Linked DNA regions of Homo sapiens: all the other regions are linked to region 2. The links come from fine-mapping of genetic effects on gene expression. A gene starts in region 2. Each other region holds a variant in brackets. All regions are shown on one strand. Distances are between the middles of the regions. Region 1 has its middle 30 kb from the start of BICD2. Region 2 holds the start of IPPK (inositol-pentakisphosphate 2-kinase). Region 3 overlaps IARS1 (isoleucyl-tRNA synthetase 1).

Evidence for each region. PIP is the estimated chance that this variant, and not a neighbour inherited with it, causes the effect.
Region 1: its variant is fine-mapped to the expression of IPPK in fibroblasts (GTEx, PIP 0.99).
Region 3: its variant is fine-mapped to the expression of IPPK in whole blood (TOPMed, PIP above 0.99). The same link has a PIP of 0.9 or more in blood mononuclear cells.

The regions. Positions count from the first base shown.
Region 1 is chr9:92,788,947-92,799,848 of GRCh38, forward strand. No RefSeq gene overlaps it. Among named protein-coding and RNA genes, the nearest start is that of BICD2, 30 kb to the left of the region's middle. RefSeq lists enhancers at 9,120-9,620, 9,621-10,121. The variant T/G (reference allele first, on the strand shown) is at 4,711.
Region 2 is chr9:92,664,422-92,675,323 of GRCh38, forward strand. IPPK (inositol-pentakisphosphate 2-kinase) reads right to left here and starts at 5,710. Exons shown (of 13, transcript NM_022755.6): 1 at 5,487-5,710. The coding sequence starts at 5,567. LOC107987095 (a long non-coding RNA gene) reads left to right here and starts at 5,941. Exons shown (of 2, transcript XR_001746837.2): 1 at 5,941-6,252; 2 at 8,445-10,125. RefSeq lists enhancers at 4,812-4,981, 5,722-6,171, 6,182-6,231, 6,986-7,280, 7,538-7,707 and a silencer at 5,502-5,681.
Region 3 is chr9:92,209,300-92,220,201 of GRCh38, forward strand. It overlaps IARS1 (isoleucyl-tRNA synthetase 1), which reads right to left. Exons shown (of 34, transcript NM_002161.6): 34 at 908-1,590. The coding sequence ends at 1,508. It overlaps LOC112268048 (a long non-coding RNA gene), which reads left to right and starts at 150. Exons shown (of 2, transcript XR_002956919.2): 1 at 150-296; 2 at 755-859. RefSeq lists an enhancer at 5,076-5,972. The variant C/T (reference allele first, on the strand shown) is at 5,588.

The DNA of each region.
Region 1 (10,902 bases), 120 kb after region 2:
AAGTGGATCATGGTGGGGAAAAGTAAGACTTCATGCTGTATTATTTTAAAAGTCCATATAGTATGCTCACTTTTAAGCTAAAATAAAATGTAATGTTTTTGTGTGGGTGTTAATATGTGTAGCTGAAATATGATCTATTTTTGAAGACCACAGATATTTACAAAGAAAAACTAAAAGGAGCAGTCTTTGTACCATTTTAGGATGGTAGGTAGTGCTCTCTCTGTCTACCAGTGACAAGATTTTAAAATCATTTTTAGATTTTATGAGTTAACTTTCCTGTCTAGATTTTGGAAAGTAGAGAGAAAGTGAAGCTTCTAGATGGAAAGAAGCTGTCAAGTGGGCCACTTGCTGAATACTGAAAACAATGAGAAGGTACCATGTGGGCTAACACAAAATTCAATTCAGACACTGAACATATTAATAGGAAATTTTAGCAGAACTTGTGAGAAAGACAGTGTCTAAGTTGAAAGCTTGCCTAGTCTTTTCATTAAAGCCACTGAATGGCCTTAATGTTTTAAGTAGAAACGGGAGGATCCCTCACCTTCACTACATGTCATTCCATCTCCCAAAATTCAGATGTAAGACAACTTTAGGAGTTTACGTTTTTCCTATTAAGTAATGAAGTAAACTGTTAAGAGTTAAAGTCATCTTAGAATTTAGGTTTCATACTGGACTTTGCTCTCTTCCCTTCTCAGTCCCAGCCAGTCGAATTTGGTCTTCTGGGGTCAACCCAAACCTAGGTCAGATGGTGTAAACATGTGTCATCAGTTGAGGCTGCTATAACAAAATACCACATGCTGCGCTTAAACAAAAGAAATTTACTCCCTTGCAGTTCTGGAGGATGGAAGTTCAAGATCAAGGTGCCAGCAAGGTCGGGTTCTGGTGAGGGCTCTCTGCTTGGCTTGTAGTGGCAGCTTTCTCACTGTGTCTTCACAATGGGTTGAGTGAGAGAGAGCTCGGGCACCAGCATGCTAGCTCTCAGGTGTGTCGCTCTTCTTATAAGGACACTAATCCCCTCGTTTAAAAAAAAATCATTATTTATTTATTTAGTGAGACAGAGTCTCACTCTGTGTCCCGCTGGAGTGCAGTGGCATGATCTCAGCTCACCGCAACCTATGCCTCCTTGGCTCAAGCAATTCTTGTGCCTCAGCCTCCCAAGTAGCTGGAATTACAGGTGTGCACCACCACACCTGGCTAATTTTTGTTTTCTGTTTTTTTTTTGATAGAGTCTCTCTCTGTTGCCCAGGCTGGAGCACAGTGGCATGATCTAGCCTCACTGCAAGCTCCACCTCTGGGGTTCACACCACACTCCTGCCTCAGCCTCCCGAGTAGCTAGGACTACAGGTGCCTGCCACCATGCCCGACTAATTTTTTTGTATTTTTAGTAGAGATGGGGTTTCACTGTGTTAGCCAGGATGGTCTTGATCTCCTGACCTCTTGGTCCACCCACCTGGGCCTCCCAAAGTGCTGGGATTACAGGCTTGAGCCACTGTGCCCGGCCTGTATTTTTAGTAAAGACGGGATTTTGCCATGTTGGCCAGGCTGGTCTCAAACTCCTGGCCTCAAGTGATCCACCCACCTCTGTCTCCCAAAGTGCTGGGATTACAGGTGTGAACCTCCACATCATCATTAAGGCCCTACTCTCACGATCTCAATGGTTGATGGGTTGATGTAATTAAGGTGAAAATATGGAAGAAAATAGGAATTTTGAATGGACTTTATGTGAAGTGGTTGCACCTCCTTTACCTGAATGTGTTAACAGGATGGGTATTATGTCCGACTGGGGAACAGGTCTGTATCTAGTATTGTGAAGCAGAAGGCACGGACGTTTGCCCTTTGGCCCATATTAATTGGACACGCTAAATGGGAACCCACGGGCCTGAGCCCAGACAGGTTGTTAATTTGAAAAAGTGTAAAATGCTTGGTGGGCAAAGAGACTTTCACTTTAATAACCTGTTGGAGGCTGGAATCCTGGTACTGTGGTCTCTGTGCAATAACATTATGCATGAGTGCCACCCAGTGGTGACCACTGGGATTTTGGACCAGGAAATCCCCAGACCTGGTAGGTAGTAGCTTGCGATTGGGCATTAATTGAAACTGCCCCTAAGACTGAAGGACATACTCTCATCTTAAAGCCTGAAATACACATGTTGTCTTGGGGGATGGCAGAGATACAGTTCAATAAGGAAGGCACTGCTCAGAAGAGTTCCATAATAAAACGGAAATGGTTTCTACAGGAGCATGATACAGAGGAATGCAAGGAGGGCTTTTCCCCTCTGGCCGGTTTCGGAACCAGCTGAGGATCTGCCAGGTCTATGGCATCATGGATGGTGCCCCATGAACAGCTCTCAATGGACAACAAAGAGCTATTTGGTTTGTGGTTGGCAGTTTCAAGGTGGATGGACAACATCCAGATCTGAAGGCCACCACATCATGAGCAATAATGGGAAAACTCATATTGAAAAAGGCAAGAACAAATCAGCCCAGCTAGATGAACTGCATGCTGCGTTTCTTGCTGCGATGAAAGAATGGAACAATCATAAGAGCTCGTGTTTGGGTTTTTACTGACTCATGGGCAGTGGCCAATGGCCTGGCCATGTGACCAGGCAGAGGGGCAATGGCAAACTGGGCTGTGAAGGGATGCCAACATGGAGCACAGCACTGCAGGAATTTAAGGGGCACATTAAAGTAGGTCATATCAATGCCCACCTGAAGAATCCCTCCCAGGATCTGTGATCAGATCCGGTAGGTGGATATCCTGGTGAACAAACTTGAGGTGGCCACCTAGGTTCAACAAAGGAGTGGGTGACAGTGCAGGGATGGGCTGCTCAGAAACATGTCCCTCCTGCACCCTCAGAGACACAAATGCCAACAAGAAATGCCTTGACAACAAGAAGATGGAGACCACAGGTGGCTAAGGGGCAGATTCCCCAGAGGGAGAACACCGCACATGCAGCTGGCAGGTGGACTGTACGGGACCCCTGCTGGTAGCCCTGGAGGGAGTTTATAAATGGGTTCTGGCAGGAATAGACACTTACTCTGGACTGAGCTTTACCTACCCAGTGGCAGATGCAAATGCTCAAGATACTATAAAAGTACTGAGCAGAAGTCACTGTATCAATGTGTGTCACTAAGTTACATACCTTCGGACCAAGGAACACACTTTACAACCTACACAGGGCAAGGAGACATCCCATCAAATGGGTATATCATGCTGCACATTATCCTCAGAGTAGTTTGTGAGAGAATTGAAATGGGCAATGGAAATGTTTGTTATCTTACATGGGGAGAGATAAAAGCGTGAAGGCTTACACACCTCCATGCATGTGTGCTCACACTTAACATGTGGTGGTCAAGGAGGATCCCCACTAGATAGATCCCTCCACTCTTGGGGTGATCTGGGGAAGATGGCCGGGAAGGATGCTGCTACGACTATGCAGTTCTTCACAACAGCACCTCAACTTTCTTGTCTCCTACCTGCTGAAAAGAGCCTGAGATCAGGCCCACAGCTGCAAGTGTTGGAAGCATCTGCCACTGGGTAGGTAAAGCTCACACTACCACACCTAGCTAATTTTTGTATTTTTAGTAGAGACAGGGTTTCACCATGTTGGTCAGACTGGTCTCGAACTCCTGATCTTGTGATCCGCCGGCCTTGGCCTCCCAAAGTGCTGGGATTACAGGCATGAGCCACCGCACCCGGCCAGAGGCAGGAATGATTCTTAAGTGAGAAACAGTTGTTATATCTTTTAACATTTGTGTCAGAAATCCTAAAGGTCTGATGGGATAGCTGTGCCTCCACTGCATCTGGCAAATCAGAGGTGGACAGTGAGTGCAGCTGTATCTCCTGGTGGTCAGGGCAGCCTCACAGTTCGTCTCTTTGCAGCCCTACCTTACATGACTGGAAATGGCCCTGCGGGAGGCACCTGCTGAAGTGGTATTGCTGCTGGCCATCTGGGCCTACACTGCTGGCCATCTGGGCCTACACAGTGGATGAACCTAACATCCCTTCATCCTTTCTAAAGGTGTGAAAGTTGGGTGAAAATCAATGACAAATGGAGAGAAGGAGAAATAGTAGCTGAGGGCAAAGGAATGAATAAATGGGTTATGCAATGAGAGAAACCCAACAATATATTGGTGCCTCGAGGTAAGCTCAGAGCAAGGGAATTATATTGTCTCTTAGCACAGTTATACCAGATGCCTGAAAGGGTAAACTTGTGTGTTTGTCAAACCATCCCTGTTTTAGGAATCTGACAAGGTCGAATAGCAACCTGCAAACCTAGTGACATCACTGTCAGAGACACTGTGGTCACACGACGATGACCAAGTGGAACTCTAGCATCTTTCAACTCTGACTTTTCAGGGTACATCTACAACAAAGGGTATCTTTTGGGAAGGGTTTTTTGGGAACTACTCCCTATTGGGGCATCAGACTGTGTAGTGTATGATTGCTGGTTGACTGACTCCTGTGTAACTATAAACCCAGGTGATCAGAGGCTTACAAAGTTCTCCCTGGTTATCTTGGACGACATAGAATGGTGGCCTGTCCAACATGCCACAGTGTGTTGTGCACAGACACAAACCACCCTGTTCTGTGAATGGAAAGCTCTTACACAAACCAGGAAAAACCACTGGGATGGTGATGGAACTAAAGCAGTAGGCATCACCCGGTGGGTCCAAATTCCCCAAGGGAGCAGCCCCTCCATGCACAAG[T/G]AAGACAATGGAAACCTCTATGACATATTCAGACTAAATGACAATGAGGTGTGACCACGACTTACAAAATGCAAGTATGGGGAAACCCAATACTTTTGAGTAATGAAACATGTATCCTAACTGCGCTCAGCCACGAGGACACAGTGGCAACAGCATGCATGGTGGCCTGAACACTGGCCCACCAGACAGAAAAGGGCCTTAGGGGAGACGGGTGCTGGCCTCGGCTTCATGGGATGAGCTGAATTTGCTTTTTTTTTTTTTTTTTGAGGGGGAATCTCACTCTTGTTGCCCAGGCTGGAGTGCAGTGGCGCAATCTTGGCTGTCTGCAACCTCTGCCTCCTGGGTTCAAGCTATTCTCCTGCCTCAGCCTCCCGAGTAGCTGGGATTACAGACACCCGCCATCACGCCCAGATAATTTTTGTATTTAGTAGCGATGGGGTTTCACCATGTTGGTCAGGCTGGTCTCAAACTCCTGACCTCAAATGATCCGCCCACCTTGGCCTCCCAAAGTGCTGGGATTCCAAGTGTGAGCCACCGCACCCGGCCTGAATTTGCTTTTGATGAAGAGTAGCACTCAGTGGGGAAAAATTTATTGAAAAAAATAAGCAGATTAAAGGGAGCAAGGGGTGGGAGTCAGCCTGGGAGGACAATGAGGCTTCGGTGAAGTGGGTTGGGTAACGTTGGGTAAAGCTAGCACCCAGTGTTGGGAAAGGGCTTCTCCCTAGATCCAACAGGGTTACTTGACTATTTTGTTACAGATGGAGGCCAAAGTGGCCGTGGGGCAGTGGCCCTCTGTCCTGGTTGCTGAGGCTCAAGGGGCCCACCTGTGGGAATCGTATGGGTCTCCAAACCTATGGAAGCTCTCTGAGAGCTCTTGCAACTTCGACCAATGCACTCTGCTCTGGATAACCCACATCCTGTAGTATAATCAGCAGGAAAAGGAACTAGTCTGAATACCACCTACATCCCTGTAGGAGAGAGTATGTGAGCCCTGCTATATAACAGAAGCCAGTCCTGCAATACAAGCCTGTGAACTAAGACAAGGCGACTGACTTTGAAGCCCAGGAATTACCGAGTCATGGTCAATCGTTTTTTTTTTTTTTTTGAGATGGAGTCTTGCCCTGTCTCCCAGGCTGGAGTGCAGTGGCATGATCTCCGCTCACTGCAGCCTCCACCTCCCAGGTCCAAGAGATTCTTCTGCCTTAGCCTCCCGAGTAGCTGGGACTACAGGCGCTCACCACCATGCCCGGCTAATTTTTGTATTTTTTAGTACAGATGGGGTTTCACCATATTGGCCAGGCTGGTCTTGAACTCCTGACCTCATGATCCGCCCACCTTGGCCTCCCAAAGTGCTGGGATTGCAGGCGTGAGCCACCACGCCTGGCCTGTCATGGCCAGTTGTAATGATGCCTGGTCATAATAATATCTGCCATGTGAACACCGGCGGATTCTATTGGAAAGGCATAGCAAATGGCACTTAAATTATGACTGATTTATTCTGTGATGAAGCTAAATTGTGCCATGACCATACTGCAGTGTGATGCAACACTGCATTTTTAGTAAGATAAGAATGACACATTCCATGTTTCATAGCATAGTATAGGAAAAAGGGAACACATCAACTTTTGCCATCTTCCTGACAAGCCAGGAGTTAAAAATAAGTAAATTAAATAATAATGAAATCTAATCCTGTAATTTCTAAGCAAACATTACTTTGACTTTAATCAATAAGGTTATTTAAAGTTCATTGAAAAATCCATATTCCTGCGTTTAGACTCATAAGTATTAACCAATTACAGAAGAATATAATACAAATAGTTTCTAAATGGACATAGAATTTAAATTCAGATTTTAATGAACTAACTTCTGGCACTGTAGAGCACATAATGTAGTCAGCATTTTGCAAATGTTGGAGTGTATACTTAGTAATGGAGTTGGTTAATAAATGTCAATGCAGTGAGACTGAGAATGGGATAGATTAAAACTTTCTTTTATTCTTCTTGCCAGCTCTGTGGCTACATGGGTGTGAACTGGAACGAGGCAGAAGGGATCTATTTTTCTATTTAGTGCCAATGAGCCCCCATGGATCTACGCAGTGTGCTTTGTGCAGATGAAGGTAAAATCCCTCCCTGAGAGCAGGTCTGTGCTCACGGGTGTCGTTGGTTTCTCCATTCACAAGCGTCAGGTGGAGCTTGGGTGGAAACCACCTTGATTCTTCAGGGCAGCTGCTCTGGTTTGTTCCATTTTTAGAGTTAGATTGTTTCCTTTAAGAGCCCTATACTTCACAGTAACAGACTCTGATTTGGAATTTGCATTCATTGTTTATTTTATTTTGTTTTTGCCCAAATAAGAAATTGCACATTTTTCTTTGCACTCTAAAGTCAAAAAGCCGAAGTGGGAATCATTATAAATGCAACATTTGAGTTCCTGTTATAGCTCCTTGTTCTTGGAAATGTTTCATTTGCATCAGGGTCGTGCCAGACATGGTAATGAAGGCCCTGAACAGAGGGAGAACCATCAGGGACTGCTGTGTGAGGAAAGCGTGGACTTTCATCCTGAAAAATGAATGTATCCATAACAACATCCTCAAACATAGACAGCTCTGATTAGTGCTCCACGAGCCCTCTCTCTAAAAACATCTGAAAATGCATCACTCTTCCTGGGGCTCACATGAATGGGGTAAATCCTTACGAAGGAGGGGCCTTGGTGCTCAGGAGGTGAAGCGCACGCCATTCTCCAGGTGTGCACGTGGGTCCGAGGAATCAGGAGCTCAGGCTGCACAGCCCTGCCGCTGCCAATCACTGCTCACAGCCCCTGAGCCCTGCTCAGAGGCAGCAGCATTTCCTACTAGGGGCAAGGTGCAGCAGTCACCAGGACACCCTGGCTCTTATTTGCAACTGCTGCATTACCTAATAGCCACCCATGGCTTCACGAGGAGGGATGCTCACAGCCCCCTGCAGAGCAGCCTCCAGGTTCCAGCCCCACAGGGAAGCGTCTGCCGTGACTTCCACCCACACAGCCTCTGCTTCCACACAATCACCCTGAATGGCAAAGGCTAAACACTTTGGTAATCCAAAACAGTAAACCCCAATTGTGCTACTCATAGTCCAATTTCTAAAATTTTACACTACAGCTGTTGAAAAATTCTAATGTTTATTTCACTGCCAGAATCAGCAGGGTAATGGACGTTTCAGCAATAAACATCATGAGCAACACATGAAATCTAATTAGCATTATTCCAATTTGCAACAGTTAAGTAAGTTATTACTCTGGGCTTTCTCCCCCCTAGATACCAATGCTTAGATTCTTGTAAAAATGTCAACTCTAGAAAAATCCTCTTTCCACTTCCAATTTTTTCTAATTCAATCTGTTTTCTAGTATTTCTTTAGAAACAAACTAATGAAATTCTCTATCATCCAGCTGTATGTACAACAGAGTGAGCTTTGTGACGCCCTCTGCACAGGAGCAGTATCCGTGAGACAAAAGAGTGGGACTCTGTCACCATGATCACAGATGAAGGATGCCGGGACACTCTGTCAAAGGAGACTCAGAACTCCATATAGGACGCTTGACTAAGATCCCAGGTACTGTCACCATGACTGTCACCCACAATTTTCCCAGGAGGGAGACACCAGTAGGAAAGAGAACAGCCCCTGTGATGTCAGGGCCAACCTGTCTCCAGCCTCCGTTCTGCTAAGTAACTCTAGAAGTTCCTCTCCTGTCTCTGGCCCAACTGACCATGTGTCAGATGCCTGGGAAAAAGGAACACAGACTTGATGATGATTCCTGGTTCTGAGCTCATGTCGCTGTGCTCCCAGGCTGTTGACACAGGCAGGACCCCTGGGCTTCTTGGATTCAAGCACACAGTTAATAACACAAACCCTGACAGCCTAGGCTTGAGCTGGGGTTCGTTGGGGGTGGGTGGCAGTGGTAGGGGAATAACTTAGGAAAGTTATTTAAGCTGCCTGGGTCTGAATTTCCTTGTCATAAAATAGGGGAAATAGTTGTACTTACATGGCACATCTGTGATGTGAATTAAATATCTGGCACCTACAACAGTGCCTGGCCCCCAGGATTTGGTGTGTGAAGAGTCCAGGTATTGGTACGAGTCCATGTCCACTGTCTTCCCTGATCCCCAAACCCAGGTGCACCCATTAGTAACTAAAATGAGGCAGACAAAAGGGATGAGTGATGAGCGGCAGTGGTTGCCAGAGGTAGGTCCAGGGACTATATTTCTTAAGACATTCTGGGTCAGGAATAATTACATAGAATGGAGCCAATAATTCCAAATCCATGTATTTAGTTAATAAGCTTTTATTTAGGGCATGCAGGTGCCAAATTTTGTCCCAGGCACTTACATATATTTAATCATTTAGTCTCCTCACAACCCATGAGAAATAAACATACTGTACTATCATTATCTACAAAGAAACATGGAATAAGACCCTAGAGAGAGCCTCCAGCAAAAGGGTGTCTGTGATCATTGTACATTTTTCAAAACATGTTCAATGACAAAAAAACCAGCTTTATAAAGTGCATGTTGAACTGTGATATAACTAGCAGTGCATCTAAGAGTGAAACAATGAACATTAAAAATGAAAGGATCCTTGGGAAACAATCCAGCCCACCTTTTGTCTCTGTTTTGGTACAATTGTGTTTTTTGTAAGGCATGTTTTTGTTCCTTCACAATGTACTATTTACAGCAAACAGCAATATTTTTACCTTTCCATCTTTCTGTCCTCCCTGAAAGCTAACTCTCTAGAGGGAGAGAAGACAATATGGGGTTTGACGCAAGGCGGTGCCCCAGCGCCAGGGCAGAGGGATGCACAGGCCTTATAGGAGCCCTTAGGGGCAGCGGGCGGGGCAGCTGCACAGACACAGCCTTGGCGTTGTTCAGAAGGAGGGACATTCCAGGTGCTGGGCGAAGCAGAGGAGGTGCAGCCCTGGGGCAGAGCACAGTGAGGCTGGGCATGCGGCGGGCTATGGGCACCTTCCTGCTCGGGGACTTCTGAGCCTCCACTTGTTGAAAAACAGAAAAAAGCCAAGGCTCAAGCCAGTAGGGGAAGGAACCGCAAAGGTGTTTTTGCATGGTTAAAACAAAGAGATGATCGAAATATGATTTCATGGATCTGTGGTTCATCCCCATGCAAAGAGAATTTTTTTCTTAGGTTCAGAACGCTTAAAGAAGATAACATGGTGAACAAATCTCCCAGGGAATCCACTTGAGAGATGAGGCACACTGACCACAGATCAGTGAGGTCCTCAATTATTAAAGTCTAGTTGCTCCGTTAGGATGAAAGTCTCTGTGGGAAGTAACTTCTAATTAAAGCTTGAGGTGTTCCTTTATATTAGCAGTTCTTGAGGGAAACTGGCTTGGCCATCACAGTGGAGACTGGAGAAGGCCGGGGTGGTCCCTGGATACTAGAGGGAAGTTGGGGAGAAGTGGTGGACAGTGCAGCCCTCTCACAGCACAAGCTCCTGGTCATCGGAGAATGGCTGACAGAGTAAACCCTGCCATGACCTAAGCTCTTAAAATGTCTGTCAAACTCTTAGGTTTATTGGACTTGGGAGTCCAGTAGTCGAGCTCAGTAACCCATACGGGGTCTGATAAGCTGTGATGTCACATTCCCGATGAGAGGAGGAGTAGCTCCAAGTTCTCATGTATGAGGTCTTGTTCTCCATGGGAGGGGGAAATACACTTCCAGTCCTTACTGCAGCAAGGCATATGTTATCCAAAGGACCACCAGAATGGCTAGAGAGTAGAAAACAGAGTTTTATTGGCAATATCAGTTTGCAAACCAGGGAGAGATCATCTCTGGTAAGAACCGAAAGTGCTCTCTTTGAAGAACAAAGAGAAGATTAGAGGTTTTATAACAAGGAGAAATGTTATGTATTCCTCTTTGAGTAAGTTCATTGGCACTAGGAAGGGTTTGGGGAGCTGGCAAGCTCTGAATGATGAGCAAAGGTGGTGGGAAAAATTAGTCACAGAGTTGTAGCAAGTTATCTCAGAAGCTAAGGATAAAACTGGTCTCAGGTGGCAACAAGCAGTTCCAGCAGTCAGGCTTGCAGAGAATTACATTTTTGGAGCAATGTTTTGTACCATGAGTGCTTTATCCTCTGGCTTCTCAACTCTGTTTTAGTTGGATGTGATAAGAATGACATGAATATGTACATTTTTGCAGCACTATGTAT
Region 2 (10,902 bases):
GTGCTGGCCCCTTGTCCAACCTGTATGGGGCATGTCCTCAAGCCTCGGCAACTCCGTCCTGACCTCATGGTGTCCTCTGCAGGACTGAAGCAGGCACAGGTGTGGGCCATGGGGGAGGTCACACACCCACACAACTCTCAGAACATGGGGAGGCCTGTGGGGATAGGCACACCTCGTGCATGGGGCTGACCCCTATAGGCATGGAAAGCCTCACTGCCTGTAAAGGGGAAGCAGGGCTGCCTAGAGGCCCACAGTGAGGGCCACAGGGAACTGTGAGCAAGTCCGGGCCCTCAGATCTCCCAACCGCTTGGCAACAAGGCAGGAGTGGCCGGGCCCTAGGCACAGCCTTGCTCTCTGCAGACACAGTAATGATGCTTTTCTCACCCTCCTGGATCGCAGCTCTCAGAAGACACAGGAAGTCACTGGGGAGCTTTGCTCTGACTGAATTCTGATGCAGAAGGAGGCTCAGTCAGGCAGAAGAAAAGTGGCTGTGTGACCTCAGAAGGTGTAAAAGTAGGAGGTGAGCCAAGGCCAAACCAACAAACCCCCGTGCACGAGAGGCACTGTCACAGGCTGCAGTCACCAAACAGCAGACCTCATCACGCAACTGCAGATACAAAGAAAGGAATAAACAAAGAGCGAGCCACAAGCACAGCTCTCCAATGAGCTCAAATGAGACAAGAAGGAACATCACCAGGAAAGAAGCCACATCAGCTGCGTCAGCCTAGAGCGCCACTAAAAATCCCAAATGCAGAATACATCACTAGTTTAAACAAAATGCTAGCAGTAACAGAAAGCTAAGACTATTTCAACTAGGTCCAGCTAAAAATTGTAAAAGGGAGCGACCAAGGGCTTGGGCACATGTTATACAGTCAGAAAAAAACAGAGAACATAAACGTATGTGCTTTCAGCATCCACAGTAGGAAGTATGGCCCAGTTAACAGTCCTGCAGGACTGCACAATGGCTTTCCACTTAACCTGTTCTAAGTGATTCTGTAATGGATATCTTTGTGTATAAGATCTTTATTTACGTTTCTAATTATCTCCTTAGAACGGACTACTAGAACAGAAATTAGTAAATCAAAGAGTATAAACTTTTTAAAAATTAATCTTTTTTCCTGAGTATCATACATATCCATTGTAGGAAATTCAGAAAATATTTAAAAAACAAAAAAAAGTAAAAGTGATTCGTGATACTATCAGTTACAGCCACTTAGAACATTTTCATCTATTTTCTTCTAATCATTTTGTAATTATAACCACATCATGCATCTTCTTTTGTAACCTGCTTTTTCTACGTAACTGTAAACACATCCTCATATAAAGGACTTAATTCATCCACTACAAAATAATCATTTAAATTATTAAAATATACAAAATCATGCTGTATGGCAAAAAAAATACATATATATATGATCTATGAACCAGAAATCTTAAAACACAAGATGAGAAGAGAAACAGTAGAAGGGCACCTGACCGCTTGAGCTTCACACCTTCAATGCCCAGACAAATATCCCAAGCACTAAACAGGTACCAAAGGGACACCAAAACTCCCCAGGCAACAAAACAATTTGCAGAAATGATCTGAAGCTCTCAGACTCTCAGAAAGGTCACGAAACTGGAACAACTGGAAGTGAGCAGCTTTGTCCACACATGTGATCAATTTAGTTGGCTGGTAAGCCAACTAAATGGCAAAGTCTTTCCTGTCACCTCTGTCAGTAAGAAGGAAAACATCATGACAGCTTAGTGTCATGACAGGAGTGGGCCACCTTCTGCCCCTGCTCCCCAAGGCTGAGGTGGTCCGGAAGGGGCTCAGTGCCCCAGACAAGTGCATGATCCAGATCTGAAGACACCTAGGAGATGGAATGACAAACCAAACCTAAAGTGACCTTCATAGGACAGGACACTGAGCCAAAACCAACAAGCTGAAGGCGAAGGAGGCAGGCGCAGGCGTCACACAGGAGAGAAATCCTGCGGCAGTGCATAAAGGGGCAACCTGTGGACTTCACTAACCTGAGATGTGGCCACTGGCCCAAGTACTGCACCTTCAGGCTGCAGCGAGGAAACTGTGCCCAGATGGGAAGTTCCCTCATCAAGGAGCCCCCACAGGGTCAGTGTCTGGAGCTCCAGACACACACCAGGGAACATGCCAGGCTGCCGAGAGCCTCTCAAGCATGCCACAGGGTCCACACCACATGAGGCAGAGAACACCATGGTTACCTGTGCCTGGGAAAGTTCAGGTGCACAACCATCCCAAACAGAGGCAGAATGCAAACTGACAGGCAAAATGAGAATCATCCTGGGCCGTCTCTGAGTGGAAGGGCCTTGGGGAAGCTGACCACCTTCTGTCAGGAACACCTTTAAACGCCTCTCTATGGCTGGCCTGCTATTTACCTTCCTGCCCACCCTGGGCACAACCTCCCACCCTCCTGTAGCCCACACCTAGTTCCTCCATCCCCAGGCCTCATTTCCTACAAGTCCTGCGCTGCACAGAAGGCTCTCTCTCATCCCATGTTTGCATACTGCAGGAAGAACATCACTGTGCTCCTTCTAGTGCTGACAGCCAATGACCATGCAGATCTCCTTACCTAGGCCCTCGGCTCCTGCAGGACGAGCTCAGGCTGGCTGAAGGCGCATCATGTTCTCATGGTAGAGGGGATGGGGGTCAGCACAGGACTCATTAGGGACCTTTCAATTCTGAGAGAAGCTGATGTCCTCTCAGAGAAAGCAACCCTCTCCTTACCTGGAAAAACTTGGCAAAGGCCTCCCTCTCTCTTGGACTGAATGAGGTGGATCTAAGGAGTACAGTAGCAGGGTCCACCTGCTCCCACACCCGGCTGGAAGGAGGCTGGGCGCATGCTCAGCATCCACAAGACCACGGACTCCTCCTATTCTACCTCACCCATCTCTTATCCCACTGACACACACCCTCTGCTCGAACTCAACAGGTCCTAAAAAGCTGCCTTCTGGGAATTGCTCTCTCTCCTCCTCGGTCCACAGCCTGAGCAAACAGGCCACAGGGCAGAGCTGGTGGGCTAGGCTTGGTTCAGGTTACCACATCAGGCACAGGCTCCATCTGACCTTAACTTGATGGGAAACATTTTCTCATGAGACTATGTGCAGTGATAATCTTCAATTTCAAATGATGAGCTAAAAACAACAACCAAGCAGGAATGAGCACAGTAAAGCAAGTTTAGATTTAAAATAAAAAATGAGGCTGAGTACAGTGGCTCACACCTGTAATCCCAGCACTCTGGGAGGCTGAGGCGGGCGGGTCATTTGAGGTCAGGAGTTTGAAACCAGTCTGGCTAACGTGGTGAAATACAAAAAAATTAGCCAGGCATGGTGGCAGGCACCTGTAATTCCAGCTACTTGGGAGGCTGAGGCAGGAGAATTGCTTGAACCCAGGAGGCAGAGGTTGCAGTGAACCAAGATTGCGCCACTGCAGTCCAGCCTGGGAGACAGAGCAAGACTCCGTCTCAAAAAAAAAGAATGAATAGCATAGGTCTAGAACAGCCTGGTGGCTGTAGGTAAATTTGAAAAGGTGAAAGAAAAAATAAACAATCAACCTGGCGTGGTGGCTCACGCCTGTAATCCCAGCACTTTGGGAGGCTGAGGTGGGTGTCACTTGAGGTTAGGAGTTGGAGACCAGCCTGGTCAACACGGTGAAACCTCATCTCTACTAAAAATACAAAAATTAGCTGGGCACGGTAGCGCATGCCTGTGATCCCAGCTACTCGGGAGGCTGAGGCAGGAAAATCGCTTGAACCTGGGAGGCGGAGGTTGCAGTGAGCCGAGATCGCGCCACTGCACTCCAGCCTGGGCAACAGAGTGAGACCCCGTTTCTAAATAAATAAATAAATAAAAATAAACAATCATTACAATCAGAGCTGTGCAACAGGGTAGGGCCAGGCTGCCCTGGAGATGCCTACTCAGGGAAGGGGGTGGACACATACTTGTCTGGAACGTGCAGAGAGATCCAAGTGCCAGAGGCAACTGCGTCAAAGCCTCTGCTCTTTCAACATGGGTGTCCTTTTGCTCCAAGCCTGAAACTTGCTGCTTCATCTGCCACTACTTTTGAAATTTAATGTATCAGCCCTCACTAAAGAAAAGTCTTAGGTTTACCTAAAATGCAGAGATACATCTAATCTTACCAAGGAATTGGAAGATTAGTATTTGTTTTGGGAAAGGATTCAGGGGATCAGCACAGTAACCCAACAACAAAAGGACTCACGCAGAAACATCCCTCACTTTGCCAATAGTGGACTACACAAGAGAAGGACAGCTTTAGGTTAGCCTGGTCCATTATTAATTCACCTAAAGATCTTGAGCAAAGCTTGTAGTCTCTGTTCTTTAGTTCCCTGTGCTAATGAGCAACAAAATCCAAAGGCACAACCTAGGGGCTACCTGGGTGTTTGCAGCTTACACTACAGCTGACCAATGCACCCAGCATAGGAACAACAGAAGCAAGGCAGGACTCCACTGCCTACATCATCCCTGACAAGCTGTTCGACTCGGGCAATGCCCTTAACCTCTCTGATTTTCACTTTATTTATCTGTCCAAGGGATGACAATTATCACTTGCTAAGCATAACTTGATGGGTTCCTGCGTAACTGGTCTTTGCAACAATCCCACAAAGTGAATTCTACTACTAGTTCCACTTCACAAATGTAGACACTGAGATTCCTGTGCCTTTAACACCCATGCTCTAACTCCTCCCTACATGACACCTATCCTCGCCTCCCTCACCCCCCTCCCCCGTTCCAGCCGGCCACATTCCTGCGTGGTTGTACCAGACAGCAAAAGGTCAGAGAGATCTGGGCCCTCACAGAAACCCACACGCTTCACTCTTGGGATTCACCTTTGCGAGATCTTACTGCAGTTTCTAAAACTTTCACCCTCGTTGAATTCAGGTGAAAGCCTTCAAATTCTAAAAGGTTGAGAAGAGGACCTGTGGACAACATCCCCTTACTATTAACAGCACAGCAATTCCGTAGTCTCACGAGGCTGAACTCTTTTGGTGCTGAGAGTAACAGCACTGTGGGCACTCTGCTTCTTCCTCCAGTGCTGGCCGGGCCCTCCGTCCCAACCAAGCCTCCACCCCACTGCGGCCTGGCAGTCCGGCGGGCATCCAGGCGGGAGGCGGCACCGCGTGAGGCTGAGCGCGGCACCGACGGGGCGGGGAGGGGGATGTGGAACTGACTCTGACGGGGAACGGGAATACTGAGGGGACGACAGACCGGCCAGGAGAAGGATCTGGGGCAATGGGAGACTGACCCAGTAGAGAGGGGATACTGGGGTGATGAGGAACCCAAGCGGTAGGGGGGGATGCTGGAGGGTGGGGGAATTCCGGAGACCGGCCGGGGAGGAGGAAGGTACTGGGGGGACGTGGAACCGACCCTGTTGAGGAAACGGATAATGGGGGCGGGGTGATACCGGCCGTCGGAGTGAGGTACCGGACCTGCGCCGCACGTCCACCGCTCACCTGCGCGTGGGCCACCACCAGGCTCTTATTGCCCTCTCCGTGGTACCCCCATTCATTCTCGTCCATCTTCCCCTCTTCCATGCCCAGGCGCAGCCCTGGCGCCTCGCGGGCTAGGACTCGGGGACGCGAGCTGGGGGCCGCCCGCCTCGCTGGGAACCAGCCGCTGCGGTCGGGGGAGGAGCGCCTGTCAGCTGCCGCCCCCGCTCGACCCCGCCGCGGCGACTAGCAAGCTGTGGCCGCCGGAAGCCACGCCCCCGGCGCCTGCCATGACGGAGTCGGGCAATTCCGGGTTCGTGACACTTTCCTCACACCGATCGCGACGGTGGATGGGCCGGCGGCCATCTTAGGTACTGGTAGAGCGACTCATTTCCGGAACGCGGTCTTGGGAGCCGGAAGAGAAGCTTCCGGCCTCGGCGCCGGATGTGTAGCTGGCGGAAGGAGCCGGCGGCTTTTCGGCGCCCGGTAGTGACCGGCAGTCCCCGGGTAGCCAGGGTGTCTGGGTGTTGGGACCGCTTAGTCGCGAGACCCCAGCAAACCTCTTGGCGTCTCTGAGCCTCAGCTTTTGCTTCTGTAGAATAGGGTGTACTCATCGTACATTTCATGGGAATACCTAACGCAGTCATTTGGATGGTCCTGTGAGGTAGAAAACATTGTCCAACGTTCTACGCGAGGAAATGTGGCTGGGCCACAGGACTGGACTCCCCAGTCCCGCTTTTGCCTGAAGACTTCGAGGGACGCAGTTGGAGCGCAAGGCTCCTGCTTGGCGGTGAGGCAGAGGGCTAACGACCTTCCTTCTCCTAAATTCACTGATGCGGCGGCAAGAATGGCACCGCCTCGTAGAGCTACCGCATTTCCCAAACTCGTAGTCTCAGGACCACTTTATACTCATAAAAATGAGGGCCCCAAGCTTTTGCTAATGTGGGTTACAGCTATCGATGTTACCACATTCTAAGTTAAAATGCTTTAAAGTTTTTTGTTGTTTCGTTTAAAAGTAAACAGCCGGGCGCGGTAGCTCACGCCTGTAATCCCAGCACTTTGGGAGGCTGAGGCGGGCGTATCACCTGAGGTCAGGAGTTTGAGACCAGCCTGGCCAACATGGTGAAACCCTGTCTCTACTAAAAATACAAAAATGAGCCAGGTATGGTGGCGCAGGCCTGTAATCCCAGCTACTCCGGAGGCTGAGGCAAGAGAATCATTTGAACCCAGGAGGCGGAGGTTGCGGTAAGCCAAGATCGCGCCATTGCACTCCAGCGTGGACGACAGAGTGAGACTCCATCTCAAAAAAAAAAAAAAAAAAAAAAGTAAACATTACATTCCACGCCCACCACCAAAATAAAGGAGTGGTATTGTTTTACACTTTTGCAAATCTTTTTAAAATCTGACCTAATAGGTTCTCACATGTGCTTCGGCATTCGGTCTGCTGCAATATATTGCATTGGTTGACATACACATTGTGAAGAACATCTGCAGTTATGTAGTTCACAAAGAGAGGACCTGCAGACCCAACTTTGAGAACGGCTGGGCACCTTGCCAGGCCTTGGGAATTGTAGTGAAATCAGGCCAGTGACTCAGGAAAATGAGCTGAAGGCTTTGAGCATCTCTTTCCTCCATTTTAGGCCTCAAAAGGGAGGCTGGGGCAGGGCATGGTGACTCATGCCTGTAATCCCAGCATTCTGGGAGGCCGAGGTGGGCGGATCGCTTGAGCTTAGGAATTCCAAACCAGCCTGGCAACATGGTGAAACCCTGTCTCTACAAAAAATTAGCAGGGTGTGGTATCTGTGCCTGTAGCCCCAGCTACTTGTAGGGCTGAGGGGCTGAGGCGGGAGGATCGCTTGTGCCCGGGAGGTTGAGGCTGCAGTGAGCCGTGATCAAGCCACTGCACTCTAGCCTGGGTGACAAAGCAAGATTCTGTCTCAAAAAAAAAAAGTGGGGGAGGCTGGGTGTGGTGGCTCACGCCTGTAATCCCAGCACTTTGGGAGGCCAAGGCGGTGGATCATGAGGTCAGGAGTTTGAGACCAGCCTGGCCAATATGGTGAAACCCCATCTCTACTAAAAATACAAAAATTAGCTGGGTGTGTGGTGCACGCCTGCAATCCCAGCTACTCGGGAGGCTGAGGCAGGAGAATTACTTGAACCCGGGAGGTAGAGGTTGCAGTGAGCCCAGATCGTGCCACTGCATTCCAGCCTGGGCAACAGAGCAAGACTCCGTCTGAAAGAGAAAAAAGGAGGCGGTGGGGGGGGGGTGGTGGGGAAGCTGGGTGGGAGGTGGCTCAGGACCCTCCACAGGGATGGTTGAGAAATGGGGGCAGAAACAGCCACTCCTGGAGGTAAGTAGCTCCCAACAGAGAGAGAGGACCTTAGGGCTCACAAAATTCAGTCCTTCCCACGCCCCCACAAGGCCAGGGAAGCTTAAACATGACTGCAGTTGAGTTCCTCAGCACCCTGCAAAAAGGAGAGTTGGGGTGAGATTAAATAATATATTAAGCATTAAAATATTTCCTTGAAACCTCTAAGGTGCTAGAAATGTTCTGTATCTTGATTTTTTCCCCCATGGAGGTGTATTATATCCCTGATACTTTAAAATTGCCATTATATGGTGATGATAAAAAGCAGATTCATGCTGGGGATGGTGGCTCACGCCTGTAATTACAACACTTTGGGAGGCCCAGGTGAGTGGATCACTTTGAGTTCAGGAGTTCAAGACCAGCCTGGCCAACATGGTGAAACCCATCTCTACAAAAAATAACAAAAAAATTAGCTGGGCATGGTGGTACACACCTGTAGTTCCAGCTACTCAGGAGACTGAGGTTGGAGGATTGTTTGAGCCCAGGAAGTGGAGGTTGCAGTGAGCTGAGAGCACACCACTGCACTCCAGTCTGGGTGACAGAGCCAGATGTTGTCTGAAAAAAAGGTTTTTTAAATCCAAATTTGGTTTTATCATTCTTTTTAAATTCACAGGCAACAGCACCTGGGCAGACCATGCCATTTCCCCTCCTGAACTCGGGTGCTTTGAAAGAAGTATAGGGGGCCGGTCGCGGTGGCTCCCGCCTGTAATCCCAGCACTTTGGGAGGCCGAGATGGCCGGATCACCTGAGGCTAGAAGTTCAAGACCAGCCTGGCCAACATGGTGAAACCCCGTCTCTACTAAAAATACAAAAATTAGTTGGATGTGGTGGCGTGTGCCTGTAATCTCAGCTACTTGGGAGGCTGAAGCTGGAGAACTGCATCAATCCAGGAGGTGGGGCTGCAGTGAGCTGAGATCCTGCCACTGCACTCCAGCCTGGGTGACAGCAAGACTCCGTCTCAAAAAGAAAAAAGAAACAAATATGGGGACGAACAGTGGGAATGCAGAGGAGAGGGTTCCCATCTGAGGAGGCTGGAAGAAAAGAAGGCTGGAAAAGAACCATGAGAAACACATGTCTGTCGTTTAAGCTATACAGCCTATGGTATTTTGTCATGGCAGTCTGAGCCAAGAGAGGGAGCAATTTAATTAGATGTGTTATGCTCTTCTATCTAGGTCCCATATAGATTGCCAACACTGTTAGTGCTTTCTCCTTTTGTGTTAAAAAGGAAAGATAGAGGAAGGGAGGGAAGAAGGAAGGATGGAGAAGAGAACAGAAAAGTAAAATGAAAATGTCTTCTAACCATATTGAAAAGCTATCCAGGGCCGGGCACGGTGGCTCACGCCTGTAATCCCAGCACTGTGGGAGGATGAGGCGGGCGGATCACAAGGTCAGGAGATCGAGACCATCCTGGCCAATATGGTGAAACCCTGTCTCTACTAAAAATACAAAAATTAGCCGGGCGTGGTGGCAGGCACCTGTAGTCCCAGCTACTTGGGAGGCTGAGGCAGGAGAATAGCTTGAACCCAGGAGGCAGAGGTTACAGTGAGCTGAGATTGTGCCACTGCACTCCAACCTGGGCGATAGAGTGAGACTCCGTCTGGAAAAAAAAGAAAAAGAAAAGTATCCAGAAACAGGGTGGAAAAGCATTGGTAATTGTGGAGTACCAAGTAATGAGTTCTTACTCTACTCTTGCTATTTTTATGTGTGTTCGGAATTTTCCTTACTAAGAAAGTATGTGATACCATGCGTTGCCACGATATGGCATGGCATGATGAGAAGGCACTTCACCTCTGTGGCGTTTCCCCCCAACCCATAAGCCCTTTCTAATCATTAGAAAACATTAAACAAACCCAAATTGAGGGACAATTCACACAGTTCACACAGTTCATACTGAGACACGGACCAGGAGAAGGAAGGATCTGGGGGAACGGGAGACTGACCCAGTCTAACCAGGACTTCAAAACTGCCATGGTCATGGAAGACAAGGATAAACTGAAGAAGTGTCACAGATCAGGGAACCCTAAGGAGACATGATGACTCAATGCAATGTGGGATCTTGGATTGGATCCTGGAACAGAAACAGACATTGATGGGAAAACAGGTAAAATCCAAATAAAACCTAAAGTTTAGTTAATAGTAGTGTACTAATGTAAGTTGTTTTGTTTGGGCATGTGCCAGTTATGTGTATTCACTTTGGGGGCGGCTGGTGAAGAGCACATAGGAACTCTGTACTACCTTTACAACATTTGTGTAAATCTAATCCCAAAATAAAAAGTTCATTTACAGAAAAAGAAGACACTCATTGTTCAGCTCCTTTCATAATTAATTGAAATTCAAATAATGAAGTGTCGGCCAGGCACAGTGGCTCACGCCTGTAATCCCAACACTTTGGGAGGCCCAGGTGAGTGGATCGCTTGAAGTCAGGAGTTCAAGACCAGCCTGGCCAACATGGTGAAACTCCAACTCTACTAAAAATACAAAAACTAGTCAGGCTTGGTGGCGGGCACCTGTAATCCCAGCTACTTGGGAGGCTGAGGCAGGAGAATTGCTTGAACCCAGGAGGCGGAGGTTGCAGTGAGCCGAGATCGCACCACTGCACTCCAGCCTGGGTGATAGCAAGACTCTGTCTCAAAAACAGACAAAAAACAAATAATGAAGTGTCTCATATATCAGTGTGGTGAAACAGTCTTAGGCAGTGTTTGCCATGGGTGATGGGGAGGGGACAGACAGCACACATATGCACTGCTGGTGAGGGTGGGGAGGCATTGCAATGTTAAAGTTCAGTTTGGCCATATTATTAAAATTAATGCCACTAATCTCACTTGACTCATCTCCACAGCTAGAAATTTAATCCTATGGAACTCTCCCTTAAATACTCAGAGATAGGTACAGGGTGTTCATACAGACAGGAGGAGTGATGACAGGACTTGGTTTTCAGCTTGGGACACTTCAGGATGGCCTCCGCATTTCTAACAAGTTCCCAGATGAGTCTCAGAATTGCTGAATGGTGACATACTCAGAAAAACCATACAGCTAGTAAAAATATATGTTAGACCTGTTTTGTACTGACC
Region 3 (10,902 bases), 460 kb before region 2:
CCACGAATACAATAGCTTTCATTGAGTTCTGAGTCTTTCTAGCAAATTATCTAAGCTGAGGGTTGGTTTTAGGAATCCTCCAGGCTTACAAGTACTCTTGTCTTCCATTCACTCCGACTTCTACCAACCAGTCACTTTTTACCTTCCAGATGCCAACTGTGGGGGGAATAAAGTTGCTTAGCAACGTGGAAATGGGAGAAGCTATAAGGCTTCCCAGTGTTCACGCAATCGTCCCTATTTCTGTGCCTCTTCTACCTTTCATCCCAGAGGTTAACTGGTGCTGTGAATTCTGAAATGTAAGTAAGTTTATCAGTTCCTCCATTGATTTAGAATTGGGGTTTCCTGGGTCTACCAAGTTAGTTAACACCGTCTATCTGCTTTCCAATTCCCCAAGTTCTGGTTGTTTCCTCTATTTTCTCCAACTTGTGGGTTTTTGTGTGAATGCATCTGTTGTAGTAGCCATAGGGATGTATCATTCAGATCTCCCTTCAAAAGAATCTGACATGAGGAGTGTAGTTGGTACTTTCAGATCCATCAAGGCATTTGTGCGAAGGCCACGCTCCCCTTGGTCTCCTCCCAGAAACTGACTTGAGGAAGTCAGAGAAACAAAGCCAGGCTATTTCTGCCCAATTCTGAACTCTACTAAAAGGAATCCTTGCTTGGGAACTCTCCATTGGCCTGACCAAGACTTCATCTTAGAGTTGCACTGCAGTCTAAGTTTTTGCTAATCAATCTTCATTTTCTCTTTTTACAGGTGTCAGACCCACACTGCAGTCTGAAGGCTCTCTCGACCTACGCTTGCTCCATCTCCCGTTTATCCTCCATTTATGTTTCCTCTAATAAATTCTTGCACATCTAACTTTGTCATGTCATCTGCTTCTCTGAGGACTCAAATTATCACCTGGGATTTTGGAAAGAAGTTTTATTAGATGTCTAGTCCACTGTCTTAATAAGAAACCACCATGAAGTTTTTATGTTCTTCAAAGTTTACACATTTCAAGTTTCATTTATCTATGGGAGAATGAATTACTTTCAACACATTTATATCTGAGTTTGTTTATTGTTCTGATTTACTGAAACTTAAAATATTCCATCAAATTATCCAGGAAAATCCAGGTGGCAGAAATATATAATATGTCCATTTCATCAAGAGGTCTCAAATAAATTTTAAAAGGCCAGAAAATGATATATATACTATGCCATTTAAATCACTTCTATCTTCTGTACTTAAGAACTCAAGTATAGAAATAAACTGTGGGCTGAAGTAACATTGTAACCTGCTCCCAACATGACTGCATAGGTGTCTAAGGTTAAGTGTGAAGATTACTGTGAGGTCTCAAGTTACTTGACTAATCAATCCCATTTGAATTTCAATCCAAGCAGCATATTTTACACACACCTGAAGGAAATATCTTCAGTGTGTTCATGTGTGTGTCTATGTGCATGTATGTGTAGGGGATAGGTGTAATTAGGGAAGGGCTGACCGAACAACATTGATAAGTACATGCTAGAAGTCTGCTGTTGTTGGTAACACAGAAACATACACAGTCTTCATATTCAAAGTCTTCACGGGGATGTCTTCTGTAATTTCTAGAATGGAAAGAAAAAGTTGAAAAAAAATCAGTATTTTACCTATTGGGGGTGAATATTTAAAAAAATGTTAACTGCTTGTGTAGTAAGGAATTTGGCCTTATCCTAAGAGTTCTGCCTTTTGTCCCAGCTCCTGAGGTGAACCTCTAAATCCTTGGAATTTCCTGGTAGGAATCTTTGTTTCTCATGGTGGGTATGTTCACCAAACCTGACAGTTGTTGCTAATGAGACAATTCAGGGTAGTGCTGGCCAGGACAGAAAGACCAAGTATATGATTTAGGATGGGGACTTTGGGTCACATGGTATATCAGTTGAGAAAGACAGCAATCATGCCTACAGAATGAAACCTCAACAGAAACTGGACACCAAGGCTCGAGTGAGCTTCCCTGGTTGGTAATATAGTCTCTGTGTTGTCAGATGTAAGGGATGAGAGGAAGAAACATTATCCATGACTCCAGGGTCTCTCTCTCTCTCTCACTCTCGCTGGTTCTAACGTGTATCCTTTCCCTACCCTAATTCAAACCATGAGTGTAATACCTTTTAGTGAGTCTGAGTCCTCCTAGCAGGTTACTGAACCTGAGGGTGGTTTAGGAAAATCCCTGGAACTTGCAGTTGGTGCCAGCAGTGATGGGGGTCTTGTGTGGATCTTTCCCTGAGTAGAATCCTCACTCCTTGCAGGTGGAGTTAGATATCGGGCAGACTCCTGGAGCCTTCTGGAGGACTATGCCATCACTTCACAGTTTGGCTAACTCTGGGTACTGCCAAGATGGTTATTTTTCCTCATACACAGATACTTCCTATGTCTACAAAAAAAGCCTAGAGGCTGTGCCAACTCAGTATCCCAGATATGTGGTTTCAAAATATGATTCTCTATAATTTGAAGAACAGCTATTTTCTACGTCTGGAGAAGTAAAAGTACATAATAAGCCTAGGACATGTTGCTACGTGAGAAAGCAAGAATTTACCAAAGACAAAGGATCATGTTAAAGAATACAGGATCCAATATGGCCAATGACGAAAACTCTGAGCATCCAAAAATATAACCCAAATGCAATTGATTGAAATATACTGAATATACAACTCAAAAACAAAAAAAAAGAAAATTTAAAGTTATCTGCCTACTGTGGAGCATTTTGCTTCTAGTCAGATCTGAATTTAAAGCAAACAGATGAGCTTCCTTTAAAAATAGCTCTTGTCCTACCTAGCAGCAATCCTAGATGTGAGAATACTCTCAAAGCTACTTCCTTAATAGATAATTACAGGACCTGGAGATGATGTTTAGAGTTTAGTGGAGCAAGCAAGAAGACATCTAAGGGTTTCTAAAATGGTCAACATTTTGTGGCTCTTCTAATTTACCAAGTTATTGATACTTTATGAAAGACAATTCTGAGAGAAAAGGCATAATGAAAACGAAGCTATAGATACTAGATTGGAAAGATACTGAATTAGAAAAAGTTCCAACTTTGTGGTAATCTTAGATAAATCACTAAACATTTAAAAGTTCTCACCCACTAAACTTTTGCCTAACTAACGTCACAGAGTAAAGAGAATACAGAAAGGCAGCACAGGTTAAGAATGGTTCTGTGAATTGCAGGTAGTATTATAAATACATAATTCATACAGACATGGTTCTACCCCTGACCAGGTTCAATCATGCCACTGCATTTGCTTGCAAGAACAAGTGAGAGATAAATGTCATCTTCAGCTCCACTGCACAACAGTACTTGGTGACCAAAGGATTTGAGGGACAAGAAGAGTTAAGAATTATCTCTAAAGTTTTATATAAGCTTATCAAAATAGAAAGCTACATTATTAGATGATCTTTACTACCATACCACAATGAAAGAGCCAAGTGTGTTCGAGGGAGAGTGAAAAAAGCCTTTGATAGAGTGAAAGACTCATGGACAGAATTAGCAAGACAGGGAAGGCCCAGAGCAGGAAGGATCTTGTGTGGAAGGGAAGATTCTGAGGCATAAGAGAATAAGGAGCTTTGGGGGCTCTAAGCAAGGGAACAAAATCAAGGCAGGAATGTTCATGAAGATAGCTCTGGTGAAGAGTACAGACTGCAGACTGGTGACTTAGATGGATGATGAGGCCCAATGATGAGATGAGAGGGAAAACGACAAAGGAGAGTCACTGAAAATAAACCCAGGGAGGGAAGGAGGAACCCAAGAAGAAATAGAGCTTTAGTATTTAACATCATGACAGAAAATTTAAAAGTACGATATGCAACTAAATTTAAAAAAAAAAGCTGCACAGGAAGAAAACGGGAGAATTACACAGAGGCCAAAAATAATGACTCCCATGGGGTCTGGTGGCTTAATGCTTTTGGCACTAAAGAGCTAGGAAAGCAGGGAAAGAAAAGCCTCCGGTATATACAAACCGGGAAGTCCAACAAATCTCTGCTGAAGAAACTGGAACTTCAAATAAGAAACCCATAGCAAAAGGGTTAATTTGAGTAAGTTCCTTCACCACAAGAGAAAAAGTGAAGAGAATGTAATCGGTTAATAATGGCCTTCCAAAGATATGCCCAGGTTCTAAATTCCCAGGAGCTGTGAATGTTCACTTTATTTGGAAAAAGAGGAAACAGAAGAGAAGGAGGCAATGTGACCACGGAGTCAGAGACTGAAGTGATGTGGCCACAAGTCAAGGGATGCCTGGCGCCACCATAAGCTAGAAGAAGTATATAAGGAATTCTCCCACAGAGCCTTCAGAGAGACTGTGGCCTTTCTGACACCCTAATTTCAGTGTCTGGCCTCCAGAGCTGTGAGATGACTTGAGCCATCCCATTTGTGGAAATTTGTTGCAGCAGCCACAGAAACCAATACAGAGAAAATCACCTCACTTAGCTTTGTTTTGGAGTAGGGATAGACAGATCCTGTCTCCATCACAACTCCTGGCCTTTGTGTATGACTGGGAATGCCATAGATTTTTTTTCTGAGATGGAGTTTAACTCTTGTCGCCCAGGCTGGAGTGCAGTGATGCAATCTCAGCACACTGCAACCTCTGCCTCCCAGGTTCAAGAGATTCTCCTGCCTCAGCCTCCCAAGTAGCTGGGATTACAGGCATGTGCCACCATGTCCAGCTAATTTTAGTAGAGATGGGGTTTCACCATATTGGCCATGCTGGTCTTGAACTCTGCCCACCTCAGCCTCCCAAAGTGCTGGGATTACACGAGTGAGCCACCACGCAGACCCAGTCACAGCTTTCTTAACATTCTCCCTATGGTCCAAAATGATTGAGTTTAAAGTGTGTCTGGGTTGTCAGTGTCTCCAAGGAACTAGACGTATGCTTCTTAAAACTGGGCTTCAACAGAAACATAACAGAACAAGCAGAGCAGACGGGCAATGTAAACAGAAAGACGGAAACTCAAAGAATAGAATGGTCTGGGTGTGGTGGCTCACCCCCGTAATCCCAGCACTTTGGGAGGCCCAAGTGGGTGGATCACCTGAGGTCAGGAGTTTGAGACCAGCCTGGCCAACATGGTGAAACCCTGTCTCTACTAAAATTACAAAAATTGGGGGAGGAGCCAAGATGGCCAAATAGGAACAGCTCCGGTCTACAACTCCCAGGGTGAGCGATGCAGAAGACAGTGATTTCTGAATTTCCATCTGAGGTACCGGGTTCATCTCACTAGGGAGTGCCAGACAGTGGGCGCAGGTCAGTGGGTGCACGCACCGTGCGCGAGCCGAAGCAGGGCGAGGCATTGCCTCACTTGGGAAGTGCAAGGGGTCAGGGAGTTCCCTTTCCGAGTCAAAGAAAGGGGTGACGGACGGCACCTGGAAAATTGGGTCACTCCCACCCGAATACTGCGCTTTTCCGATGGGCTTAAAAAACGGCGCACCACGAGATTATACCCCGCACCTAGCTCGGAGGGTCCTACGCCCACGGAGTCTCGCTGATTGCTAGCATAGCAGTCTGAGATCAAACTGCAAGGCGGCAGCAAGGCTGGGGGAGGGGCGCCCGCCATTGCCCAGGCTTGCTTAGGTAAACAAAG[C/T]AGCCGGGAAGCTCGAATTGGGTGGAGCCCACCACAGCTCAAGGAGGCCTGCATGCCTCTGTAGGCTCCACCTCTGGGGGCAGGGCACAGACAAACAAAAAGACAGCAGTAACCTCTGCAGACTTAAATGTCCCTGTCTGACAGCTTTGAAGAGAGCAGTGGTTCTCCCAGCATGCAGCTGGAGATCTGAGAACGGGCAGACTGCCTCCTCAAGTGGGTCCCTGACCCCTGACCCCCGAGCAGCCTATCTGGGAGGCACCCCCCAGCAGGGGCACACTGATACCTCACACGGCAGGGTATTCCAACAGACTTGCAGTTGAGGGTCCTGTCTGTCAGAAGGAAAACTAACAAACAGAAAGGACATCCACACCAAAAACCCATCTGTACGTCACCATCATCAAAGACCAAAAGTAGATAAAACCACAAAGATGGGGAAAAAACAGAACAGAAAAACTGGAAACTCTAAAAAGCAGAGTGCCTCTCCTCCTCCAAAGGAACACAGTTCCTCACCAGCAACGGAACAAAGCTGGATGGAGAATGACTTTGACGAGCTGAGAGAAGAGGGCTTCAGACGATCAAATTACTCTGAGCTATGGGAGGACATACAAACCAAAGGCAAAGAAGTTGAAAACTTTGAAAAAAATTTAGAAGAATGTATAACTAGAATAACCAATACAGAGAAGTGCTTAAAGGAGCTGATGGAGCTGAAAACCAAGGCTCGAGAACTACGTGAAGAATGCAGAAGCCTCAGGAGCCGATGCGATCAACTGGAAGAAAGAATATCAGCGATGGAAGATGAAATGAATGAAATGAAGCGAGAAGGGAAGTTTAGAGAAAAAAGAATAAAACGAAATGAGTAAAGCCTCCAAGAAATATGGGACTATGTGAAAAGACCAAATCTACGTCTGACTGGTGTACCTGAAAGTGATGGGGAGAATGGAACCAAGTTGGAAAACACTCTGCAGGATATTATCCAGGAGAACTTCCCCTATCTAGCGAGGCAGGCCAACGTTCAGATTCAGGAAATACAGAGAACGCCACAAAGATACTCCTCGAGAAGAGCAACTCCAAGACACATAATTGTCAGATTCACCAAAGTTGAAATGAAGGAAAAAATGTTAAGGGCAGCCAGAGAGAAAGGTCGGGTTACCCACAAAGGGAAGCCCATCAGACTAACAGCAGATCTCTCGGCAGAAACCCTACAAGCCAGAAGAGAGTGGGGGCCAATATTCAACATTCTTAAAGAAAAGAATTTTCAACCCAGAATTTCATATCCAGCCAAACTAAGCTTCATAAGAGAAGGAGAAATAAAATACTTTACAGACAAGCAAATGCTGAGAGATTTTGTCACCACCAGGCCTGCCCTAAAAGAGCTCCTGAAGGAAGCGCTAAACATGGAAAGGAACAACCGGTACCAGCTGCTGCAAAATCATGCCAAAATGTAAAGACCATCGAGACTAGGAAGAAACTACATCAACTAACGAGCAAAATAAACAGCTAACATCATAATGACAGGATCAAATTCACACATAACAATATTAACTTTAAATGTAAATGGACTAAATGCTCCAATTAAAAGACACAGACTGGCAAATTGGATAAAGAGTCAAGACCCATCAGTGTGCTGTATTCAGGAAACCCATCTCATGTGCAGAGACACACATAGGCTCAAAATAAAAGGATGGAGGAAGATCTACCAAGCAAATGGAAAACAAAAAAAGGCAGGGGTTGCAATCCTAGTCTCGGATAAAACAGACTTTAAACCAACAAAGATCAAAAGAGACAAAGAAGGCCATTACATAATGGTAAAGGGATCAATTCAACAAGAAGAGCTAACTATCCTAAATATATATGCACCCAATACAGGAGCACCCAGATTCATAAAGCAAGTCCTGAGTGACCTACAAAGAGACTTAGACTCCCACACATTAATAATGGGAGACTTTAACACCCCACTGTCAACATTAGACAGATCAACGAGACAGAAAGTCAACAAGGATACCCAGGAATTGAACTCAGCTCTGCACCAAGCGGACCTAGTAGACATCTACAGAACTCTCCACCCCAAATTAACAGAATATACATTTTTTTCAGCACCACACCACACCTATTCCAAAATTGACCACATACTTGGAAGTAAAGCTCTCCTCAGCAAATGTAAAAGAACAGAAATTATAACAAACTGTCTCTCAGACCACAGTGCAATCAAACTAGAACTCAGGATTAAGAATCTCACTCAAAACCGCTCAACTACATGGAAACTGAACAACCTGCTCCTGAATGACTAATGGGTACATAACAAAATGAAGGCAGAAATAAAGATGTTCTTTGAAACCAATGAGAACAAAGACACAACATACCAGAATCTCTGAGACGCATTCAAAGCAGTGTGTAGAGGGAAATTTATAGCACTAAATGCCCACAAGAGAAAGCAGGAAAGATCCAAAATTGACACCCTAACATCACAATTAAAAGAACTAGAAAAGCAAGAGCAAACACATTCAAAAGCTAGCAGAAGGCAAGAAATAACTAAAATCAGAGCAGAACTGAAGGAAATAGAGACACAAAAAACCCTTCAAAAAATTAATGAATCCAGGAGCTGGTTTTTTGAAAGGATCAACAAAATTGACAGACCACTAGCAAGACTAATAAAGAAAAAAAGAGAGCAGAATCAAATAGACGCAATACAAAATGATAAAGGGGATATCACCACCGATCCCACAGAAATACAAACTACCATCAGAGAATACTACAAACACCTCTACGCAAATAAACTAGAAAATCTAGAAGAAATGGATAAATTCCTCGACACATACATTCTCCCAAGACTAAACCAGGAAGAAGTTGAATCTCTGAATAGACCAATAACAGACTCTGAAATTGTGGCAATAATCAATAGCTTACCAACCAAAAAGAGTCCAGGACCAGATGGATTCACAGCCGAATTCTACCAGAGGTACAAGGAGGAACTGGTACCATTCCTTCTGAAACTATTCCAATCAACAGAAAAAGAGGGAATCCTCCCTAACTCCTTTTATGAGGCCAGCATCATTCTGATACCAAAGCCAGGCAGAGACACAACCAAAAAAGAGAATTTTAGACCAATATCCTTGATGAACATTGATGCAAAAATCCTCAATAAAATACTGGCAAAACGAATCCAGCAGCACATTAAAAAGCTTATCCACCATGATCAAGTGGGCTTCATCCCTGGGATGCAAGGCTGGTTCAATATACGCAAATCAGTAAATGTAATCCAGCATATAAACAGAGCCAAAGACAAAAACCACATGATTATCTCAATAGATGCAGAAAAAGCCTTTGACAAAATTCAACAACCCTTCATGCTAAAAACTCTCAATAAATTAGGTATTGATGGGACATATTTCAAAATAATAAGAGCTATCTATGACAAACCCACAGCCAATATCATACTGAATGGGCAAAAACTGGAAGCATTCCCTTGGAAAACTGGCACAAGACAGGGATGCCCTCTCTCACCACTCCTATTCAACATAGTGTTGGAAGTTCTGGCCAGGGCAATTAGGCAGGAGAAGGAAATAAAGGGTATTCAATTAGGAAAAGAGGAAGTCAAATTGTCCCTGTTTGCAGATGACATGATTGTATATCTAGAAAACCCCATTGTCTCAGCCCAAAATCTCCTTAAGCTGATAAGCAACTTCAGCAAAGTCTCAGGATACAAAATCAATGTACAAAAATCACAAGCATTCTTATACACCAATAACAGACAAACAGCCAAATCATGAGTGAACTCCCATTCACAATTGCTTCAAAGAGAATAAAATACCTAGGAATCCAACTTACAAGGGATGTGAAGGACCTCTTCAAGGAGAACTACAAACCACTGCTCAAGGAAATAAAAGAGGATACAAACAAATGGAAGAACATTCCATGCTCATGGGTAGGAAGAATCAATATCGTGAAAATGGTCATACTGCCCAAGGTAATTTATAGATTCAATGCCATCCCCATCAAGCTACCAATGCCTTTCTTCACAGAATTGGAAAAAACTACTTTAAAGTTCATATGGAACCAAAAAGGAGCCCGCAACGCCAAGTCAATCCTAAGCCAAAAGAACAAGGCTGGAGGCATCACACTACCTGACTTCAAACTATACTACAAGGCTACAGTAACCAAAACAGCATGGTACTGGTACCAAAATAGAGATATAGATCAATGGAACAGAACAGAGCCCCTCAGAAATAACGCCACGTATCTACAACTATCTGATCTTTGACAAACCTGAGAAAAACAAGCAATGGGGAAAGGATTCCCTATTTAATAAATGGTGCTGGGAAAACTGGCTAGCCGTATGTAGAAAGCTGAAACTGGATCCCTTCCTTACACCTTATACAAAAATCAAGATGGATTAAAGACTTAAACATTAGACCTAAAACCATAAAAACCCTAGAAGAAAACCTAGGCATTACCATTCAGGACATAGGCATGGGCAAGGACTTCATGTCTAAAACACCAAAAGCAATGGCAACAAAAGACAAAATTGACAAATGGGATCTAATTAAACTAAAGAGCTTCTGCACAGCAAAAGAAACTACCATCAGAGTGAACAGGCAACCTACAGAATGGGAGAAAATTTTCGCAACCTACTCATCTGACAAAGGGCTAATATCCAGAATCTACAATGAACTCAAACAAATTTACAAGAAAAAACAAACAACCCCATCAAAAAGTGGGCAAAGGACATGAACAGACACTTCTCAAAAGAAGACATGTATGCAGCCAAAAAACACATGAAAAAATGCTCATCATCACTGGCCATCAGAGAAATGCAAATCAAAACCACAATGAGATACCATCTCACACCAGTTAGAATGGCAATCATTCAAAAGTCAGGAAACAACAGGTGCTGGAGAGGATGTGGAGAAATAGGAACACTTTTACACTGTTGGTGGGACTGTAAACTAGTTCAACCATTGTGGAAGTCAGTGTGGCGATTCCTCAGGGATCTAGAACTGGAAATACCATTTGACCTAGCCATCCCATTACTGGGTACATACCCAAAGGACTATAAATCATGCTGCTATAAAGACACATGCACACGTATGTTTATTGCGGCATTATTCACAATAGCAAAGACTTGGAACCAACCCAAATGTCCAACAATGATAGACTGGATTAAGAAAATGTGGCACATATACAACATGGAATACTATGCAGCCATAAAAAATGATGAGTTCATGTCCTTTGTAGGGACATGGATGAAATTGGAAATCATCATTCTCAGTAAACTATCGCAAGAACAAAAAACCAAACACTGCATATTCTCACTCATA